Homo sapiens: one gene and its partner. The protein of the gene in region 1 interacts with the protein of each later gene in a biochemical or structural test. Each region holds a gene or a part of one and is shown on either strand. Other genes may lie near its edges.

What was found.
Region 2: the proteins of FLRT3 (region 1) and UNC5B form a complex in vitro, tested with the Homo sapiens proteins (one study listed by BioGRID).

What each region holds. Positions count from the first base shown.
Region 1 is NC_000020.11:14,336,085-14,339,999, reverse strand, and holds the start of FLRT3 (leucine-rich repeat transmembrane protein FLRT3 precursor), read left to right. Parts: upstream 1-2,387; 5' UTR 2,388-2,596; intron 2,597-3,915. UniProt on the Homo sapiens protein: Functions in cell-cell adhesion, cell migration and axon guidance, exerting an attractive or repulsive role depending on its interaction partners. Plays a role in the spatial organization of brain neurons. Plays a role in vascular development in the retina.
Region 2 is NC_000010.11:71,210,806-71,214,720, forward strand, and holds the start of UNC5B (netrin receptor UNC5B isoform 1 precursor), read left to right. Parts: upstream 1-1,764; 5' UTR 1,765-2,180; coding exon 2,181-2,259; intron 2,260-3,915. UniProt on the Homo sapiens protein: Receptor for netrin required for axon guidance. Mediates axon repulsion of neuronal growth cones in the developing nervous system upon ligand binding.

The DNA of each region.
Region 1 (3,915 bases):
GGGCACACATTATTATAAATTCACCTTCAACTAGTAGCATTTCAGGTAGCTGATAAGAGCGGGAAGTGAAAAACTATGTATGCAGCAAAAGAGTATATATTTTTGGACAGAATAGGAGGCCACAGATTCTACTAAGAGTTTGCCCCCAAAGTCAGTACCCCAGTATAGAATATATTTTCACAATTTCTTTTCTTTTCCCATATTTTAATCCATAGCTTAAAAGGGGAAAAAAAGCAACAAAAAATAATTGGCATTTAATAAATCCTTGCTGCCTTTATTTGTCAAGTGATGAAACCAAAGCCTAGGGCAACAAATATGAAGTCATATAACAATGGCAGCCCAGAGAAGGGAAACCTCCAAACTGCTAACTCCCAGGCCAGTACAATTTATTTTTGATACCTATAACCCAATTCACCAATTGATTTTTCTTTTCTGTTTAAGGCCTGCCTGAATGAAGACGAAACTGATTAAATATGGCTATAAACCCACAGGAATTTGACCAGGCAAAAATTTTCTTTTTTAAACAGAACCAACTCCTATCTGAAAATGGCTTCTAGAAATAATTATTTAATAAAATAATTTAATCCATGTCTTTGTTTCATAGTAACAGAAAAATATCCACCTCCCTTTCCTCCCAAAATTCAGCTGCTGCATATCAGTTTAATTGTACTACCTAGCAGTTCAAAGAAATTGGCTTTTCAATGGACATTAGAATCTAAAACTCCTAGATTTAATGGGTCTGTCCTCTGAGGCCCACAAAAGTGCAATCATAGAACAATAGGGTCAATACATTTCTTATCAAGGGTTCACCTACTTTGATATCACCCATTCTTGGAAGGGAACTCAGGTCAAACTGTTATCAAACAAATATATAAATAGATAAACTAAATGAAGCTAATGAAGAGACCACAATCAAATAGTCCTGGGAAAGACTATTAGCTGGCCTTCTTCAGAAATAAACATGCAGGGAAAAATTGAGAAAGGACAAAGGAGAAGGTCATGCACCTCTAAGAATAGAGCAAATAAAGATATTAGTTTAAGACAACGGTCCTCCAGGTAAATATAAAAGCTAAGTTCTTACCACCAACATGAACAAGTGAAATACACTTATTTGATGGAAAACTTACGGGCACAAAGCAATTGTTGACCAAATAGCAGAAACCAGTCTACAAAAATCATAATTAAAAATACAAGTATAATTCTGTTAATTAGGCATAGAAATTTATAATCTCCACGTCTTACAATTGTCCAGTGTTTATTCATGTACCTAAATTAAACTAAAATAATTTCAATCCAGGCAAACCACCCTGAAAGATTTTTTTCTTAAGATGTTTATATCTAAACCCATGCTCAGATCAGCAAAAACATTTAGAAAGGAAAATATTCTATTAAATTTTTTAAAAACATTTTATTGGGGGATCGTTAAATATAAATAATCCATTTTAAATAATATAAACACGTAGCAGAAGTACATAAAACATACTTTCATTTTCTAAAACATAGAGAACAGTAACTTCTTCGCCTCCAAAAGAACAGACCATTTAATACCATTTAAAAAAATCTTTTGGCATTCCTATTGCCCTTCCCATAACTAAATGAATCAGTGACACGTGTATATATATACATATATTGGAGATGGAGTTTCGTTCTTGTTGCCCAGGCTGGAGTGCAATGGTGCAATCTTGGCTCACTGCAACCTCTGCCTCCCGGGTTCAAGTGATTCTCCTGCCTCAGCCTCCCAAACAGCTGGGATTACGGGCGCCCAGCTAATTTTTTCTACATGTTGGTCAGGCTGGTCTCGAACTCCTGACCTCAGGTGATCCTCCCACCTCGGCCTCCCAAAGTGCCGGAATTAGAGGCGTGAGCCACCACACCCAGCCCTGATGTATATATTTGAATCTGCTGTTTATTCATATGTTGAATAAACATTCACAGTTGGGATTACTGGCATACATCTTCCACAATTATAACATTATTTTAGCTAGTGAATAATAAAACTAATTTGATTTTGGTTAACTTCTTTTCAATACAGATGGTTTAAAAATAAGACAAAGCCTGTCTTTTTCTATTGTGATCTTAAAAATATCTTTCTAACATGCTTTTTAAAAAAAATACATAAGTATGCTACCACTGCCTTGTAGTAAACTTTAGAAAATGTTGAGATTCCAAAGGGCTGCCTACAAACCAAATGGCATCCTAGCTTTGGCAGGCTGATGCTTCATTTTGGCTGCTCTCGCCCCCTCTAGCGTTTGCAAAGCTCATCTGTCTGATTATCCAGTTACCTCACTGAACAAGATCTTGGCTAAGTCCTGCCCATCTATGACATCACCCCCTTCTTCAGCCACTGCGAGGTGAAGCTTTAAACTTCAGACTTGGAGGTGGGCTGTGTGCAGTAAACTGGAATGCTCTCCCTCGCTCACTCCTCAGTGTAGGAGTGATCTGAAGCAGGACAAGCTCAGCCTGCAGCTGCCGTGGGCTTTGTGTGGACTGGACGCAGAGCTTGGGAGACGGGGGAGGGCTATTACTCCAATTCACTGTCAATGGAATTACAGCTATAGCGGCAGTGTATATAGGATTGCTTTTTCTCGTCTTCCTGGTAAGTGTTTTCCATGTTTTTTCTTATGATTGTCCCAGAAAGTTTGCTTGGTTTTACTCTCTAGAAAGAAACGACTTGATACTATGAGAAATCCAAATAGGAACGTTTGCTCTGTCACCACAACAAGCAATATATGTGCGTGCAAGCCAGCAATGAAAAATTTCACTATCATGGCTGAATGTAAGAAGTTTCTTAGAACCTTCTTTCATTTATAAAAGATAGTAAGTGGCTATTTTCTGTCTTGAGTAATTGCTATGTGAAAAGAGCCTTATGGAAAACAGCAAGTTGGAAAGTTCAATGTTAAATATTAAAGAATACAAGGAGATTCTTCACAGATAGGAAAGCAACTTGGTGTGTACTGTACGTGTGGGATGATCACCAATTGCTGTTTTTACAACTGTGAAAGAAAATCAATAATCCCTCAGCCCATGAGTACGCAGTACATGAAAAGCATACATCTTGCTCACAGCTAGCCGAGCTACTCCTGGAGACTTATGTGCCTCTGTAAAGGATTAACAGCTACACCTAGATTTTAAAGCTTGCACTGCTATCGTGCCTGAGCTGCTTCAAGCATTTCAGGCTTGCAAATCTCAACTAGTAAATTGAACTCAGAGGAGGGGGAGACACTCTTCCAAACCATATTCCCTCTTCAATAGAACACCAAAATCCATTGCTTAGGCAAGTGAAGTATGTGACTAGCATAGTAAATGGCTAAGTCTACTCAGAAAAACTAACAAAGCTCACCCTGGAAGCTATGCCTGATGTATGCAGTGAGTTTGGGGTAGCAGGAAAGAAAAATAAATGAGTAGAGCCCTTATCAAGTGGGTTTTGCAGAGGATCCATTCTTTGCAACTTATAATAGGAAAATCTTATATTGGAAGAAATGCATTTATACTACAAAGCTTGAAAAAGTAGTTAAATGTATCTTCTCAAAAAATTTTGTTCACTGAATTAGGTCTGAAACAAAATGGTTGCATATAGGTAAAGAGTGCAACAGGCCCATCCATGTCTTCTCAACATCTGGGGGGTTTGTTTTTATTATTTTATTTAGAATTTAAAAGAAAAAAAATTGATTTTTTTTTCAATTTTTAGTCCAAAATCTCTAATGGTTTTAATAATAAGGCTATTTTAAACATTCTTAATAAATCTGTCTATTAATAAATCTGTCTAAAATGCTCATCTATGTTATTTTATTATCCAGAAACAACATAAATAAAGCCACTAGAAAAGTCCTTCAGCTGTAGCAATGCCTTTCATTTATCTCTGACTGCATAAAAATATCCTGACCAGCCTAAACATAAAGAATAAATTTGCTTATA
Region 2 (3,915 bases), on another chromosome or scaffold:
TGTGCGCCTGTGTGTTTGCTTTTTTTAGGCATACATCTTTGGTATGTGGGTGTCTCTGGAGTCGGGTGCCTATTTGTAGGTGTGATGTTTATGGGAGGTGAAACATTGCACCTGTTGTCTTTGTTGTATGTTTTCGTGTGTGTACCTTTGCAGGTGTGTATGGGTGGGTAGTTGTGTGTGTGCATGTGTATTTGCAAGGTGGAGTTGGTTTGGGTGTGCTGAGCTGTTGACTGTCTCATCCACTGCCCTTGCTAGGGCTGTCAGAGGCCAAGCTAAGCAACCTACCTTTGCCCACAGCAGCCTTTCTCAATTGATGGAAGTTCTTCCCCCAGGGAGTCCCAGTCCACCTGTTGCCACCCTCCTGATGCTGGGTGCCCAGTCAGAGAGGGTTAGGGAGATGTGCTGATGGCATGCACGACCTCCCCTAGATACTCCAAGACCCCGGCTTGTGAGGGGAGTGTGTGTGGAGAGGGTACTAGTCCTGCCTTCACCTCACCTCTGGGGAAACAGCTAGGACAGTCCCCTTCGCACAGCCCAATCCAGCCCCAGGGAAGGTGTTCAAGTGAGGCTCCCCCGTTTAGAGGGTTTCTTTCCAATCCCATCTCCCCCATCCCCTTTGCTCAGTCACTCAGTCACTCCAAGCAGTGTGATCTCCGGCAGGTGGCTTTACACCTCTGTGCCTCAGGTCCTTCATCTGTAAAATGGGATGTAAATGGTGCTTACTTCAGAGGGTTGTGAGAATTAACTGACATGATGCATACAGAGTGCTTAGCCCTGTGCCTGGCACAGGGAAGGTCTTTGCCTATGTTAGCTGATCCGCTCGTTCTGATCTCTCTGGGTTTCAATCCCAAGACACTGCCCATCCTTCAAACCTCACCTGTCCCCACGTGCTCCTTGGACCACCTTTGGGTGGTCAGGACTTTCCCCCTGGAATCAGACTGGCTGGGAGGGGAGAATCTTGGAAAGAGATTATTGACACTTGCACTGCAATTTCCACACAAGTTTTAAAATTTAATTCTATACCCCCTTATGAAATAGTTATCCTTTTCCTCCATTTTACAGATGATGATGAAGGGAGCAATAGAATTGTTAAGTAACTTGTTCAAGGTCACACAGTAAATAAGGGGCAGAGTCCAAGTTTACACTGAGCCAAAAATGGCTGTCCCACTGTCAGGTAGGAGGCTAGTTTACAACAACGCAGGATCAGAGTGCTGGAGGGGTTTCCAGGGGTCTGGTTAACAGTTCTGCCGGAGATCATACAGACAAGCAGAGCCAGCCAGGATGATCCTAATCTATACCCAGCTTCATATCGCTGTAAGCCCCCGCGTAACCAGGACTTGGGTGTTCTCATTTTGGGAGCCTTTTTTTTGGAAAGACCCCCACATGTGGAAGGCAGAGCGCATACTACAGACAGGGGAGCCAAAAGTGAGAGTCCTATGTTTAATCAGAGGAGAAAGCTGACATGGCCAAGCCAAATGAAGGCGCAAAGCCAGATTTCCTTAATTTGGGGGAGCGAAAATTGGGCCGCCTCCACGTCCAGCCATTCTCCAGCGGCCGGGTTTTTCAAAACGCTGCGCCCAGCGTCTCGCGAGGACCCTCCCCCCGGGTCCCCCAGCTCTGCCGCGGCCGCGCCCAGATGGCCGTCGGATCCCCCCTCAAGGTCCCCCTGTCGGCTCCGCCCTCGGTCGCCCAGGCCCCGCCCCGGCCGCGCGCGGTCCCCTCGGTTGGCGAACTCACTCCGGCGAGCGAGCGGCGGCGCTCGGCATTGTGGCAGGCGGCTGGGGCCGGCTAGGGCGCCGGAGCCGCACGCAGCCGCGGGGCTCCGAGAGGCGCGCACTGGGGCTGGGACTGCGCGGCGCCGCCGCTGCGAGCGCCACTGAGCGGTCGCGCAACTTCGGAGGCACAGCGCCGGAGCCAGGCGAGCGCTCAGAGACCCGGAGCCAGAGGGGCGCGCCGGAGCCTCGTTCGAGAGCCGGCGCCAGGCACCCACCGCGCTCCGAGTGCCAGGCGGCCCTCCGCGCAGCGTGGCTTCCGCTGCCCCCACGGAAGGCACGGGCTGGCGCTGCCGGGCGCCGGGGAGGACGGCGAGGAGGAGGCGGCGGCGGCGGAGACGGCGGCGGCGAGACTGGGGCCAGGGAGACAGCCCTGGGGGAGAGGCGCCCGAACCAGGCCGCGGGAGCATGGGGGCCCGGAGCGGAGCTCGGGGCGCGCTGCTGCTGGCACTGCTGCTCTGCTGGGACCCGAGGCTGAGCCAAGCAGGTAGGAAGCGATCGGGTCTGGGGGCGCGGGGCTAGGGGACCCTTGCGCCTCACTCTGTCCTGAAGTTGAGGTGGTCTTTCGTCGCATCGATGCGCGCAGGAAAAGCGGCAAGGGCGCCCAAGTTAGAATGTAGATTTTACTGCCTCCCAAAGTGGGCAATGGCGCATCCACATCGCGGGAGCGGGGAGCAGGGAAGGGGCTTCACAGTAAGCTGAAAGGTCCCTGCTCGCTCCTGAAAGGGATCCCTTCTTCTCCCTGGAAGGGGTGTAGGAGTCAGGGTCTGAGTCTCCGGGAGGATCCGCCTCCTGGGGACGCCCGGCTCTCCGCGCGCCTGGCATCCGCCCCGAAAAAGAACATTGGCTACATAAGCAAGGTGTGCGCTCGCTGCCGTACGCCGGTAACTTACTAGTCTGGTCCCGGCTCGCCTAGGCTCTTACGCGCTATAGGGACAGCAATCTGCAGACTAGAGGGAGAGAGCGAAAAGACCTGCTGAACACAGGAAGCGCTTCGGTAGCCTCGGCAGGCCGGCTTGCAGGGCTCCTGAAGCGGGGAGGGCTAAGTCTTGCACACATAGCTTTCCCCGAGATCGCTGGGCCCGCAGGTCTGGAAGAATTATTATTATTATTATTATTATTATTATTATTAATTTTCTGAGTGTTGGAGAGTGTGTGTGTGTGTGTGTGTGTGTGTGTGTGTGTTGGATGCGGGTAGGGGTTCTTAGCGATCCTGCGGAGTTTCCTTTTAAATTGGTCACTGACATTCTCGCTGTCCGGGGAACAGACTAGGTGCGCTCTCCTTGGTACAGCGCCCGCTCTGGACCCACCAAGATGACTTCAGCGAACTGGTGGGCTCCGAAATAAAGTCCCTAACCCTCCTCTCTCGCCGTGGATGAATACGTTTCTCGCTCGTCCTGTAGCTGGACCCGGCGTCGCTGGCTGGGCTGCGTCTTCTCGGGGAGGCTGTGGACTGAATGGAGCCAGCCTCTCTCTGGTACCCGAACCCAAGCAAGTGGGCTGGCCACGGCTGCCGGGCGGCTCGGCTCCGGAGCCAGGTGGGGACGGGGCCTCCTGCACGGAGTCCTCTCTGAGTTGAGGCTGAGAATGGAGCAGGAAAACTGGAGCAGAAAGTGGACGAGATGACGCAGCCCTCCCCACCTCCTACCTCCTGCTGCGAAGTTGACATCCGCCCTTCCCCCCTCCATAGCCAAAGATTCCTCATTCTGGAATTAGTGATTCCCACGGCCAGGAGTGAGGGCTTGGCTTTAGCACATTCCCCACTTTTTTTTTTTTTTCTGGTGCAAGTCCTGTGCAGTAGAGTTACAACACTCAACCATTTGATCCAAGTTAATTATGATTTGGGCAGACTCTGGTATTTAAAGCAGTGTTTTGAAGTTGGAAGGTAATGATGGGGATGGGGAAGGCAGGCTGCTGAATGTCCAACCTTGTTTTAAAGGGTGCAGTTAGACGTGGGAGGTGCTTGGTTGGGGTGCTGGTTTCTGGTTGGAGGGGGTTTGAGGAGATGATTGAAGGGTAGGGTGAAGTCTCTGTAAATGGCACATGGGCAGGGTTGTGTCTTGGGAAGCTGCTTTTGTACCAGCAGGACAGTGGGATCAGGAATAAATACTTAGGTTACCAGGAATGAGGGGCTGCTGTAGGA